Regions from separate parts of the Homo sapiens genome. Here all the other regions are linked to region 1. Evidence: fine-mapped expression QTL. A gene starts in region 1. Each other region holds a variant in brackets. All regions are shown on one strand. Distances are between the middles of the regions.

What was found. PIP is the estimated chance that this variant, and not a neighbour inherited with it, causes the effect. A credible set is the group of variants that fine-mapping cannot tell apart.
Region 2: its variant is fine-mapped to the expression of CACNA1H in whole blood (INTERVAL, PIP 0.99).
Region 3: its variant is the best candidate, but not a certain one, in a credible set for the expression of CACNA1H in whole blood (TOPMed, PIP 0.56).

The regions. Positions count from the first base shown.
Region 1 is chr16:1,150,899-1,155,489 of GRCh38, forward strand. It overlaps CACNA1H (calcium voltage-gated channel subunit alpha1 H), which reads left to right and starts at 2,208. Exons shown (of 35, transcript NM_021098.3): 1 at 2,208-2,572; 2 at 2,822-3,138. The coding sequence starts at 2,840. RefSeq lists enhancers at 1,107-1,687, 3,062-3,829.
Region 2 is chr16:1,207,340-1,211,827 of GRCh38, forward strand. CACNA1H (calcium voltage-gated channel subunit alpha1 H) reads left to right here. Exons shown (of 35, transcript NM_021098.3): 14 at 1-91; 15 at 431-521; 16 at 674-882; 17 at 1,693-2,073; 18 at 2,696-2,796; 19 at 3,031-3,154; 20 at 3,244-3,312; 21 at 3,448-3,632; 22 at 3,829-3,955; 23 at 4,142-4,267; 24 at 4,377-4,466. Among named protein-coding and RNA genes, the nearest start is that of TPSG1, 16 kb to the right of the region's middle. The variant G/A (reference allele first, on the strand shown) is at 2,067.
Region 3 is chr16:1,216,184-1,220,774 of GRCh38, forward strand. CACNA1H (calcium voltage-gated channel subunit alpha1 H) reads left to right here. Exons shown (of 35, transcript NM_021098.3): 31 at 749-827; 32 at 1,736-1,857; 33 at 2,027-2,468; 34 at 2,787-2,947; 35 at 3,798-4,591. Among named protein-coding and RNA genes, the nearest start is that of TPSG1, 6.8 kb to the right of the region's middle. The variant A/G (reference allele first, on the strand shown) is at 2,820.

The DNA.
Region 1 (4,591 bases):
GCGCCCCCTGGCACTTAGTTTGGAAACTGTTTTCTCCTCCCCATAAGACGGAAGCTGCAGGCATGAGAACCGGGTCTGTCTGGTCACAGCCAAGGCACCTCCACCCTCCAACCGGGCCCCGCGCACTGTCCACCCTCAACTACCATTTGTCCAGCAAATCAACGACAGCCCCCAGCTAGAATCTGGAGCTTCAGTCTGTGGCTTTGCCTTAGCTTTAATTAATTAATTAATTAACTTATTATTTTTTTGAGGCAGAGTCCACTCTGTCACCCAGGCTGGAGTGCAGTGGCGTGATCTCGGCTCACTGCAACCTCTGCCTCCTGGGTTCAAGTGATTCTCCTCCCTCAGCATCCCGAGTAGCGGGGATTACAGGCATATGTCACCATGCCTGGCTAATTTTTGTATTTTAGTAGAGACGGGATTTCACCATGTTGGTCAGGCTGGTCTCGAACTCCTGACCTCAAGTGATCCACACACCTCGGCCTCCCAAAGTGCTGGGATTACAGGCGTGAGCCACTGCACCTGGCCCACCCTAACTTTTAACGAGCAGGGTGTTGATAAAAAGATCAGAGGTTCCAAGTGCCCTCTGGACCGGACTCCGATTCAGCGTTTGTGTCTCCCCACCTGCTCCAGCCTCCCTCCACGGATGTGTCCAAAGCACGGGGCTCTCCTAGGTCCTGCTCCTCTGTGGCTGGAACCTTAATTGGACCTTTGAAGGCCTAATTCACCAGCTGTGGCCCTCCATCGCTGAGTAGTTGCATTAAAATAGACTGAATGTTTTCCTTTTCTTGAAAGTTCCCGTATACAGGAGGAGGTGCTGCTGAAAGGACCTGTACCCCAGCCAGGCCCCCACACTCCTGCCTTCCAGTTCCTCGGCCCACCCCAGGTGCTGTGTGTCCTTCCGGGCCCCAGCTGGGCAGGGCCTCTTCTTCACCCTGCACGATGTGGCCCACCCGGGGGAGGTCCTGCTTCTCTGCTGCTCACCCGCAGGTGGGAAGCCACAGCCGCCCCACAGCCTCTCCGGGTCTGGGGTCTCAGGGTGCGCCCTGGAGCAGGGCCTCTTTGTCTGGAGGGAGAAGGGGTCTCTCCCACTACCAGGGGCCCCTTGTTGGCGGGCGTGCTGAGGTGCACACCTGGGAGCTCAAGCTCCCTGGTGCACAAAGCAGTGGTCCCAGAAGCAAAACCACCCTTCCAGCCTGGAGGGGTGCCCTGGGGGGAGTCAGGAGCCTGGGCACCTGCCCCCACCTGCTGGCACCTCGAGGTGCGGCCAGCCCTCCCTGGGACAAGGGCCTGGCCATCCCCAATGTCTGAAGGGTCCACCCCTTCCCGACCAAACCACTTGCTCTGAGGGTCCAGGGGAAGGCCCTTCTGCTGGCCTGGCTGAAGGAGCAGCTGCTGGCAGGGGGAAGGGGCCTGCACTTCTCCTCGGGGGCCCCTGGGTGAGTCTCGCTGAGGCAGCGGGGTTGGAGGATGCAGGAGCACCAGGCTGCCGTCCCCAGGGTCCCCCAGATCCCCACGCGGGAGGGGACCGGAGACGAGGACAAGTTCGCGGAAACTGCCCGTGCGTGTCGGGGAGAGATGCGAGTGCAGGAGCGCCCAGCCGTAAAGCACACCCCCGCCCGCCCCCGCGCCCCATCACACACGCGCGCGCGGGCACACCCGGGACACACACGCGGCGGGGAAGGGGCACGCAGCCTCTCGCCTTCCACGCCCGCCCGGTCCCCGCCCCTCCGCCGACCCGGGCCCGCGTCGTAGTGGGGGTGGGGGTGGGGGCGGCGGCGGCGCGCGCGGCAGCGCGAAGGGGGAGGGGGAGCCGGAGCGGGAGGGGGAGGGGCGCGGCATCGGCGGCTCGGCCGCCCCCGCAGTTGGGGGCAGGGAAGGACGTAGGTGCTCCCCCTCCCACCCCGCCGGAGCCTCCCGCGAGCGCCCCCTGGTGCACCCCACGCCCGGCATTGTTGGGGAGCACGAAAAGCGGGGAGCCCAGTGCGGGGGCGTGGAGGGGGCGCGGGCGGGGTCCAACTTCCCGCACCCGGGGGGGGGCGGGGCGCCGGGCGGCGACAGGGAGGGGTCGCTCGGGCGCGCGCGTCTCGGGCCGGGGGCGGATCCTCCCCAGTACCCCCCCGCCCGCCCCGCCCCCGGCCCCGCCCCGGCCACGCTGGCCCCGCCCCGGTCGCGCCGGCCCCGCCCCGCCCCGCCCCCCGCCGCTCAGCCCGAAGTTTCCTGCGCCGCGCGCGGACGGGCTCGAGGCTCGCTCGCTGCCTCACCGGTCCCCGGCCCGCGCCCCGCGCCCCGCGCCCCGCGCCCCGGCCTCACCCGTCCGCTCAGCGGCCTCCACGCCGCGCCGAGGCCGCCGCCGTCGCCTCCGCCGGGCGAGCCGGAGCCGGAGTCGAGCCGCGGCCGGGAGCCGGGCGGGCTGGGGACGCGGGCCGGGGGCGGAGGCGCTGGGGGCCGGGGCCGGGGCCGGGGGCGGAGGCGCTGGGGGCCGGGGCCGGGGCCGGGCGCCGAGCGGGGTCCGCGGTGACCGCGCCGCCCGGGCGATGCCCGCGGGGACGCCGCCGGCCAGCAGAGCGAGGTGAGACGCGGCGAGGACGCGCGCCCGGGACCCTCTTCAACTTGCGCGAAGCGGGCCGGGGAGCCCCTCGGGGTGGGGGTGGGGCCGCTGGAGGGAGGGAGGGGGCGGGCGGGGGCGGGGGGCGCGTTTGTCTCTAATAAGAAAAGACAAAGACATCCCGGCGGCCGCGGCTGTTCCCGCAGCTCCGCGCCGCGGGAGGCAGGGCGGGGGCGTCGCCACCGGCCCCGGGTCACCCCCTGTCCTCTGCAGGTGCTGCCGGCCGCCACCATGACCGAGGGCGCACGGGCCGCCGACGAGGTCCGGGTGCCCCTGGGCGCGCCGCCCCCTGGCCCTGCGGCGTTGGTGGGGGCGTCCCCGGAGAGCCCCGGGGCGCCGGGACGCGAGGCGGAGCGGGGGTCCGAGCTCGGCGTGTCACCCTCCGAGAGCCCGGCGGCCGAGCGCGGCGCGGAGCTGGGTGCCGACGAGGAGCAGCGCGTCCCGTACCCGGCCTTGGCGGCCACGGTCTTCTTCTGCCTCGGTCAGACCACGCGGCCGCGCAGCTGGTGCCTCCGGCTGGTCTGCAACCCATATCCTTCCCGGCCGGCGGGGGGCGGGGGGCGGGGGGCGTGGGGAGGGTGGGGGCCCGGGGCGCGGGACTCCCTCGGCATGCGCCCCCGCGCGCCCCTGTTGGTGGGACCTGGCGTGGGCCGGGCGCGCGGGGGTGCAGGGCAGGGGCTGGAGGACCGCGCTCTAATTTCTGAGAGTGGCGGGCTTGGGGGGCCACCGGGCGCCTCCGGACTCCCTTCCCCAGGGCCGGCTCCGGACGGAGAAGGTGGAAGCGAAGCGGTGAGGCCCCCGCGGGCTTGGAGGGGAGAGGAGTCGGGGAGGGAGGGAAGGTCCTAACTCCTCGCGGCCCCAAGGGTGTTGGCCAGGACGGGAATTTCCCCCTTGCCCACCCCTCACTGTCTGAAGGTCCTGCCCGAGGCAGGCCCCTCGCGGGGGAGGGGGAGGCCAGAGGAGCTGGAGTCAGGGGCGCAAAGTTTTCAGCCGGCGCCTGGTGGTTCCGAGTGCGTGGGGAGACCCGTGGGGCCTGTGAGCGCCGCCAGGGCCTTTTCCGTGGAGAGAGGCGGTGACGTTGGTTGTGAACTCGCTTTTTCTGGCTGAACTCGGTGGCGGGGCTGACTTAAGTCATGCGCAGCTGAAGGGTAGGGGGCAGGGAGGCAATTGGCACTGCCAAGGGGGAGTCTCATCTCCCCAGCCCCTTCCCTGGCTGGAGAGGAAGAGGCAGCCTCTTCTACTCTCGGCCAGAGCGGCACAGACTGCAGAGAAGGTTCCAGAACAGAGTTGGGTCAGGGCCAGGGGCATTTGTGGGATGTACACGGAGGTCCAGGGGGCCCCCCAGCAGGTGGCCTTGGGGGCGGGTCTCCGCGTGCCCTGAGAAGGGCCTTGCGTGGTGCCTGTGTCAGGGCCGGGTCTCCCCACCGGCCCTTCTGAGCCGGCAGCTGGGGTGGCCAGGCCGTGGCTTCTGCTCCGGGCCTGGGGACGGGTGGAGAGACCCTGCCCGCAGACGTCCCCCGTCGGAGGTGGGGAGACAGGCTGGCAGCAGGAGCGGCCTGTGTACACTTCCCTACCTTGTGTGTTTAACTGTACAAATATTAAACACGAAAGAGGAATCTGTACAAAAAAAGTCATAAAGCCCGTGTTTCTCCTTTCTCAAATCCAAACATCGAGTGAGTCAGACTCATCTCTGCTTGTAGAGGAAGAGGAGGCTGCTGTGGTCCCGGGGGCAGCCGGCCCCGGCCAGAGGGCTGCCTCGGAGCCCCACACCCGCTGCCCGGGCGGCCTAGGCCTCTGTAGCCTCAGGGTGGTGTCTGCGAGTAGGTGGGTGTCCCCGGGAGCCGAGGTGCAGGCCCGGCCTTGAAGAGCGGTTGTAGGTTTGTCTCCTCTCTAGAACCAAGGCGGGAGGTGGTCATGCCCCTTTGTTCTGGTAGGAGGTGACTGGGTGTGGGGTTAGTCCGGCGGTGCCAGCAGGCCATGGGG
Region 2 (4,488 bases), 56 kb after region 1:
CGCCCTCTACTTCGTGGCCCTCATGACCTTCGGCAACTATGTGCTCTTCAACCTGCTGGTGGCCATCCTCGTGGAGGGCTTCCAGGCGGAGGTGAGGGGGCAGGGAGAGGGGCTGCCAGGAGGAGGGCGATGAGAAGAGAGACGGGCTTCAGGTCGAGGGGAGGGGTGTGGGGGGCCTGCCAAGAGGTGAGGGATAGAGAAGGGAAGCTGGCTGCCATGAGGAGAGGGGAGGCCAGGAGCCCAGCGGAGTGGGCAGGGGTCGGTCGGGAGAGGCAGATTCCTCACCTACCTGCCCACCCTGGCAGTGACATCATCCTCTGGGCCCTTCTGTCCACACCCCACCTCCCAGGCCAGCCCAGACTTCTGTCCGGCATGAAGGGTCCCCACTCACGGGGCCCCTCATGCCTGCCTTGTGCTTTGTTGGGTTTAGGGCGATGCCAACAGATCCGACACGGACGAGGACAAGACGTCGGTCCACTTCGAGGAGGACTTCCACAAGCTCAGAGAACTCCAGACCACAGGTGCGTGTGGTCGGTGGGTGGTCCGGGTTCTGGCGGGTGGAGTACGCTGGGCTGGCCGGGCAGGGCCCCCATAAGGCAATCCCTAGGTTGGGGGATTCCTGGTCCTGGGAGCCTGGCAGCTCTAGGGGCCCATTCCTCCCTCTGTCCCGCAGAGCTGAAGATGTGTTCCCTGGCCGTGACCCCCAACGGGCACCTGGAGGGACGAGGCAGCCTGTCCCCTCCCCTCATCATGTGCACAGCTGCCACGCCCATGCCTACCCCCAAGAGCTCACCATTCCTGGATGCAGCCCCCAGCCTCCCAGACTCTCGGCGTGGCAGCAGCAGCTCCGGGGACCCGCCACTGGGAGACCAGAAGCCTCCGGTAGGGACCATCTCCTGCCCCAGCTCTCAGGCCCCTTCAGGTTTTCCCTGCCTGGCTCCTTATGGCCTTCCCTGAAGATGAGTGAGGGCCGCACCCCCCACACCCTTGAAGTCCCAGCCTGTGCAGAGACTGAGAAAGAGTGTTCTGGTTTCCGGAAATGGAAGCTGTGGCTGCTGTTGTGTGAGGCCGGTGTGAAGGGGCAGACGCGGAAGCTCTGTGCGCCCAACAGTCTAGCAGAGTGCACAGCGCACAGCACAGAAAGACCGAAGCAAGCAGGGGCAGAAGCGTGCCCGGCAAGCAGACGGCAGGCCAGGCGGGGGTTCCGCTGCCACCAGAAGCAGCCCGATTCCCTTTACGGCCAGGGCATCTCTCTGGGTCCAGGGGGACTGGAGGGGAGCAGTTTTGAAACGAACTCCAGGCAGTACCACCCACAACAGACACGGAGGATGGGAGTGAGCCAGACGCCCTAGCAGGGGAGGAAGCGGGGCAGCTGTGAGGCAGAGCCGCAGGCCCAGTGTGCTCCTGGGGACACGGGGGCCACCCACACTTTGTCTGGTCCTGGGCTGGTTCTGGCCCCTGACCCAGCAGAGCCCAGGGCATCACCCCCGCGAGGCGGACACCCTGACCCTCATGAGCTACGCCTGTGGCTGGCTCGGTGTCCCCCTAAAATCACAGCCTCCACCGTGCCTCCCTGGCGGGGCTATGCATTAAATGATCCACGTGTGGCTTGCACACAGTGGGTGCTCCGTAATGACAGCGGTCGGTGCTAATAGTGATGCCACCAGGTCACTGACTCCCGCCACCCCCCAGGCCAGCCTCCGAAGTTCTCCCTGTGCCCCCTGGGGCCCCAGTGGCGCCTGGAGCAGCCGGCGCTCCAGCTGGAGCAGCCTGGGCCGTGCCCCCAGCCTCAAGCGCCGCGGCCAGTGTGGGGAACGTGAGTCCCTGCTGTCTGGCGAGGGCAAGGGCAGCACCGACGACGAAGCTGAGGACGGCAGGGCCGCGCCCGGGCCCCGTGCCACCCCACTGCGGCGGGCCGAGTCCCTGGACCCACGGCCCCTGCGGCCGGCCGCCCTCCCGCCTACCAAGTGCCGCGATCGCGACGGGCAGGTGGTGGCCCTGCCCAGCGACTTCTTCCTGCGCATCGACAGCCACCGTGAGGATGCAGCCGAGCTTGACGACGACTC[G/A]GAGGACGTGAGTGCGTGGCCCTGGGCCCACCGCCGACTCGCCTTCGTCTGTCTGGGGCAGGTTCCCTCAAGTGGGGTTTGAGATGGGATTCAGGGCGTGTTGTTGACTGAGGGGATTCAGAAGGGGAGAGAAGCAGGCCAGGCCAGGGAGGAATCCAGCAGTGTTCAGGGATTCAGCCACAGATGATCCCAGAGTCCCCCCTCTGCCGTCTAGGGGCTGTGAGCTAAACGCTCCACGCACGGCCTGCATACGGGGGCTGGGCTCTGCGCCGTGGGTCAGCCACTGGCCGAGAGCTGCTGCCGAGGCAGGGCCAGGCATCCGCTAGGCTCTCAGGCTTCCGTGGGTCAAGGACCACTCCCAGAGTCAGGGACCCAAGAGCACCCGCTCACCTGGCCCCGTGGACTCCAGCACGGGTCACTCTGCCGTCACCAGCGTAGGGAAGGGGGAGGCTCCACGGTATGGGCCCCAGAGGCCAGAAAGCCAGAGCCCAAAGGCCAGCGGGTGAGGAGTGAGGATGGAGAAGGCTGAGAAGGTGCTGGGAGGGGTGGCCGAGCTGAGCACAGAGGGCCCTGATGGGGGGCCGGGCAGGCAGGCGCAGGCTCTGAGAAGCCGCCGCCTCATCCCACAGAGCTGCTGCCTCCGCCTGCATAAAGTGCTGGAGCCCTACAAGCCCCAGTGGTGCCGGAGCCGCGAGGCCTGGGCCCTCTACCTCTTCTCCCCACAGAACCGGTGAGGCGGCCGGGTCAGGAGGCTGCATGGCTAGTTCCACCCCACGGGACCCCCGCCCCCAGGTCCCTCCTGGGTGGGGCTAGCACATGGTGGATATTTCCGAGTGGGCACCCCTTCTCACACCGCAGGGACCGGGGCTGAAGTGGAGGCGTGGCCAGGGCTGTCCTGCAACCCCCATCCACTCTGCCATCCACGCCGCCCCGCCCCACCTCTCACCCGCCCCCGCCCACCCAGGTTCCGCGTCTCCTGCCAGAAGGTCATCACACACAAGATGTTTGATCACGTGGTCCTCGTCTTCATCTTCCTCAACTGCGTCACCATCGCCCTGGAGAGGCCTGACATTGATCCCGGCAGCACCGTGAGTCAGCCAACCCCATCGTCCCGGGCCACCACGACCCCCAGGGAGGGGTGGAGTGGACACAGCCCCCCACCGTCCTCTCCCGGCAGGAGCGGGTCTTCCTCAGCGTCTCCAATTACATCTTCACGGCCATCTTCGTGGCGGAGATGATGGTGAAGGTACCGCGGGGCCCGGGGACTGCCCTTGTTCCCAGGTCCCCGTTCTGCCCTCATCCCCACCCCCACCCAGCAGCGCGCCAGCTCCCCAGACCCCCCACGCCTGAGCCTGAGCTCAGTGCCATTGGCCCTCCGCAGGTGGTGGCCCTGGGGCTGCTGTCCGGCGAGCACGCCTACCTGCAGAGCAGCTGGAACCTGCTGGATGGGCTGCTGGTGCTGGTGTCCCTGGTGGACATTGTCGTGGCCATGGCCTCGGCTGGTGGCGCCAAGATCCTGGGTGTTCTGCGCGTGCTGCGTCTGCTGCGGACCCTGCGGCCTCTGAGGTGGGGGGCTCCCCGTGGGCTCCCGGGGCAACCTGGAAGCACAGTCCCCTGACGCCACTGCCCATTACTCCTCCCGCAGTCCTGGGCTGTTCGCAGGCCGCCCACTCGGCCCCACCTTGGGACCTTTGCTGAGCTCTGCCGGCGCCTGGCAGCTGCTGCCATAGATGACTGCAGTGTATCCTTCACTCCCCTCCAGGGTCATCAGCCGGGCCCCGGGCCTCAAGCTGGTGGTGGAGACGCTGATATCATCACTCAGGCCCATTGGGAACATCGTCCTCATCTGCTGCGCCTTCTTCATCATTTTTGGCATTTTGGGTGTGCAGGTGTGTGGCCCCCACGTGCCCGGGGGTCTGCCCCGTCGCAGACAGGGTCTGCCTTCCCAGCGTGGCTCCCAGCAGCGCCGCTGCGGGACGGGGAGGGACAGCTCGGGCCTCACTCGCGCCCCAGGAAGTCCGGTGTGGGGTGGGGCACAGGCCAGGCCCTCCGCGGTGACCGTCGCACCCCGTCAGCTCTTCAAAGGGAAGTTCTACTACTGCGAGGGCCCCGACACCAGGAACATCTCCACCAAGGCACAGTGCCGGGCCGCCCACTACCGCTGGGTGCGACGCAAGTACAACTTCGACAACCTGGGCCAGGTGGGCTGGGCGGCCGGGCGGGAGCTGGGGGTCTCCAGGACACCCTGGAGCGAGAGGGCCGGCGACCCCAGCTCTAACCCTCGCCAGTGACCCTGGCTCTGGCCCTCAGGCCCTGATGTCGCTGTTCGTGCTGTCATCCAAGGATGGATGGGTGAACATCATGTACGACGGGCTGGATGCCGTGGGTGTCGACCAGCAGGTGCGCACAGGCGGGTCGAGCT
Region 3 (4,591 bases), 65 kb after region 1:
TCCCACCCATTTCCTGTCCCTGCGCCATCTGTCACTTGCCCCCTGCCTGTCTTCTGCCTCCCACCTCAGCTGTCCCCACTCACCCTGTCCTCAGCGGCGTGCCTAGCTTCGTCCAAGTAACACTCCCGAGGGCCAGGTACCACTCCACCAGGTGCTCAGCTGTGCAGAGAAGGGGCGTGGCGTAGGACAGGCCTGGCCAGCCTTGGAGGGTGCGCCGCCCAGCGGGGCAGTGTGTGCAAATGCTGGGGCTGGTGGGTGGCTCACAAGAGAGCCGTGGCAGGGGAGGGGTGAGGCCCAGGCCCACCTGCCGGGACCCCTCAGTCAGCTGCGTGCTGGCCTGGGCCCCGCCATGGGATCTCTGAGGTAGCCGCTGAACAGGGCGGGCCAGAGCCCCCAGGAAGAGCATGCTAGGCCTTGGGGAACCTGCTGGGCAGAGTGTGGAGTGGGCTCTGGGCCAGAGGCTGATGCTCAGGGGCAGGGCAGAGGAAGAGAGAAGCCAGTGCGGGCCAGCACAGAGGGGTGGGCTCTGTCTACCTGGTGAGGTCATGGTGCCCCGAGAGGGGCATGGGGCTGAGGAACAGGGGTCCCCGCCCAGCTCTGGGAACTTGCTTCCACTTGGCCGGGCCCGGAGCACCTGGAAGAAGGTGGGCAGGTGGGGTCTGGTGGCCGAGGCGCCGAGTGCCCTGCAGGGTGGGCTGAGGCCTCCCTGCCCGCCCGTCTGACCCAGCTCTGCTTCTCTCTTGTGTAGGTGGGGAACCTGGGCCTTCTTTTCATGCTCCTGTTTTTTATCTATGCTGCGCTGGGAGTGGAGCTGTTCGGGAGGCTGGGTGAGTGGCTCCTGCGCCCTCCTCCTGGCACACATGGGGTCCTGACAGGCGCCCCTGTGCCCATCCACTCACACGCAGGCACATGCTTGCAAATAGCGTGGGGCCTGATCAGGGCCACACGCCTCCTGGGCGTCCTCACCCGGCCCTGCTTCCGGAGCCTTTTCTGCACGAGGCCGAGTCTCGTGTTGACGCAGAGGCATGTGCCCAGGCTTGTGACACGTGTGCGGACGTGCACACAGCAACACAGACACAGGGATGCCTGCCACACGTGAGGGGAAGCAAGAACACCTAGAGACGTGCACACACAGACATCTGGAAACACACGCCATGCCCAACGTCACATGGTCCCAGGAGACAAATGTTGGCTGTCTCCCCTTACCTGGTGGCCGTAGCCTCCTGAGGCCCCCACCCAGGCCTCAGCCTCGGCCCAGGCTGGGCGGGGCAGGTGGGGACCCTCCTTAGACGGCCCAGCCCTGCCCCTGCCGGGTTCCACTTCAGGCAGCCCAGTCCCTGCAGGGCCCTCCCCCGGGCCCTGTCCCGACGGTGGGTGTGGCGTTGCCACAGTCCAGTGTCTGTCCACCAGGTAAGCTTGATTTTGGTCAGCCGGCGCCTACTCATCCCCCGCCACGCGCAGTCACAGACACACACAATAATGATTCTTCCATGGCAGCCGCCAGGCCTGATGAGCCCCAGCCCAGGTGCGGCAGCAGGGGCCTCGGCCCAGGGGCTCCGACCTCACACCCAGGGTCACCCTCTGCCAGGCAGGGCGAACCGCCAGGGCCTCGTCATCCACATCCTCCGGGCTATCCTGCCTCTGGGCTCCCCAAGGGGCATGTGGAGGCTGGGTGCATGTCCCGCCTCCACCCGGAGCGGGCTCGGCTGACCGGGCGGGGTCTCCCTCCCCGCAGAGTGCAGTGAAGACAACCCCTGCGAGGGCCTGAGCAGGCACGCCACCTTCAGCAACTTCGGCATGGCCTTCCTCACGCTGTTCCGCGTGTCCACGGGGGACAACTGGAACGGGATCATGAAGGTACCCGCCGCGGCCATGCCTCTGGCACCTGGCAGCCCCAGCGGTTTTTCAGGCTCTCCCAGGAACGGGTCGGATCCGTCCTTGCAGGGCAGGGGGAAGGGGACGGCACTGCCAGGGTGGCACCCGCGGGTGGGTGTGGACCCCGGCCCACAGCTGTCCCCCACCGCAGGACACGCTGCGCGAGTGCTCCCGTGAGGACAAGCACTGCCTGAGCTACCTGCCGGCCCTGTCGCCCGTCTACTTCGTGACCTTCGTGCTGGTGGCCCAGTTCGTGCTGGTGAACGTGGTGGTGGCCGTGCTCATGAAGCACCTGGAGGAGAGCAACAAGGAGGCACGGGAGGATGCGGAGCTGGACGCCGAGATCGAGCTGGAGATGGCGCAGGGCCCCGGGAGTGCACGCCGGGTGGACGCGGACAGGCCTCCCTTGCCCCAGGAGAGTCCGGGCGCCAGGGACGCCCCAAACCTGGTTGCACGCAAGGTGTCCGTGTCCAGGATGCTCTCGCTGCCCAACGACAGCTACATGTTCAGGCCCGTGGTGCCTGCCTCGGCGCCCCACCCCCGCCCGCTGCAGGAGGTGGAGATGGAGACCTATGGGGCCGGCACCCCCTTGGGTATGGTAGCCAGCAGGAAGATATGGGCTGGGTGGGAAGCAGGACAGGGAGGAAGATGGGGGCAGGTGGGAGGGAGGATGGGGTCAGGCCAGAGCAGGGCAAGAGGAAGGATGGGCGGGAAGGAGGATGGGGGCAGGCAGGAGGGAGGATGGAGGCCAGATTGAGGAGGCTGGGTGTGGGCAGGTGAGAGAGAGGACGGGTCGGGCTGGGGCTGGCCAGGAAGGAGGATGGTGGCAGGTTGGGGGAGGACGGGGGTGGGTGGCAGCTGGGCAGGAAGGCAGGGGCAGAGCTGCCAGCTTAGATTCTTCCCTGCCCCAGGCTCCGTTGCCTCTGTGCACTCTCCGCCCGCAG[A/G]GTCCTGTGCCTCCCTCCAGATCCCATTGGCTGTGTCGTCCCCAGCCAGGAGCGGCGAGCCCCTCCACGCCCTGTCCCCTCGGGGCACAGCCCGCTCCCCCAGTCTCAGCCGGCTGCTCTGCAGACAGGTAGGAGAAGCCGTTGGCCTGCAGCAGAGGCTGGCGGGGATGGGGGGCTTGCAGGGATGCCTCGTCTCATCTGAAGGACCAGCAGACGAGGACAAGGCAGGAGGAGGGTCGCACTGGGTCCTTGGGGCTCCGAAGGTTTCTGCCTGCTGCTTGGTGGATCTTGGAGCATTGGGCCCAGGTGCGTCTTCAGGCCTGTGAGCCTGTGGCTACAGAGCTCTTGGCTACAGGGACCTGAGTCTTCTTGGACCCACAGCTTCAGGCCCCACGGTGGGCAGACAGCGGTTTCTCAGGTCCCGTGGTGGGCAGACAGCAGTTTCCCAGGGCCCACGGCGGGCAGATGGCAGTTTCTCAGGCCCCATGTGGGCATGGGTCCCGTGGTGGGCAGACAGCGGCTTTTTCAGTCCTGGCTTGTGTTCAGATGTCCCAGCCTTGCCCACCTGCAGCCTCAGCTCCTCTTCCTGCCCTTTCCTACCTCTTGCTGCCCAGTACAAGACGCCTGTACCGCACAGGAGCAGTTAGGAGAGCCCCATCCTGGGGGTGCCCAGCTGGGCTGCTGATGTCCAGGGGTGGGGAGGTGGCCTCAGCCTCAGCTCTGTGCCCCTGGGGGCCATGGCATCTCTGCCCACAGAGCAGCGGGTACAGGCTTTCCCCGGGAGCCTCACAGGTCAGGAGTGAGACTAGGACGTCCACACCAGCGGCTTCCAGCCCCATCTCGAGGGTCAGGAGCCACCCAGGGGACCTGCCCAGTTTGGCCTCTCCAGTACCTGGATGGTGAGGGGTCTCCGAGCCCTGGCCACTGACAGGGCTCTCCCAGGGCCCCGCCCCTCACTTTGACTCTACGCCCCCACAGGAGGCTGTGCACACCGATTCCTTGGAAGGGAAGATTGACAGCCCTAGGGACACCCTGGATCCTGCAGAGCCTGGTGAGAAAACCCCGGTGAGGCCGGTGACCCAGGGGGGCTCCCTGCAGTCCCCACCACGCTCCCCACGGCCCGCCAGCGTCCGCACTCGTAAGCATACCTTCGGACAGCGCTGCGTCTCCAGCCGGCCGGCGGCCCCAGGCGGAGAGGAGGCCGAGGCCTCGGACCCAGCCGACGAGGAGGTCAGCCACATCACCAGCTCCGCCTGCCCCTGGCAGCCCACAGCCGAGCCCCATGGCCCCGAAGCCTCTCCGGTGGCCGGCGGCGAGCGGGACCTGCGCAGGCTCTACAGCGTGGATGCTCAGGGCTTCCTGGACAAGCCGGGCCGGGCAGACGAGCAGTGGCGGCCCTCGGCGGAGCTGGGCAGCGGGGAGCCTGGGGAGGCGAAGGCCTGGGGCCCTGAGGCCGAGCCCGCTCTGGGTGCGCGCAGAAAGAAGAAGATGAGCCCCCCCTGCATCTCGGTGGAACCCCCTGCGGAGGACGAGGGCTCTGCGCGGCCCTCCGCGGCAGAGGGCGGCAGCACCACACTGAGGCGCAGGACCCCGTCCTGTGAGGCCACGCCTCACAGGGACTCCCTGGAGCCCACAGAGGGCTCAGGCGCCGGGGGGGACCCTGCAGCCAAGGGGGAGCGCTGGGGCCAGGCCTCCTGCCGGGCTGAGCACCTGACCGTCCCCAGCTTTGCCTTTGAGCCGCTGGACCTCGGGGTCCCCAGTGGAGACCCTTT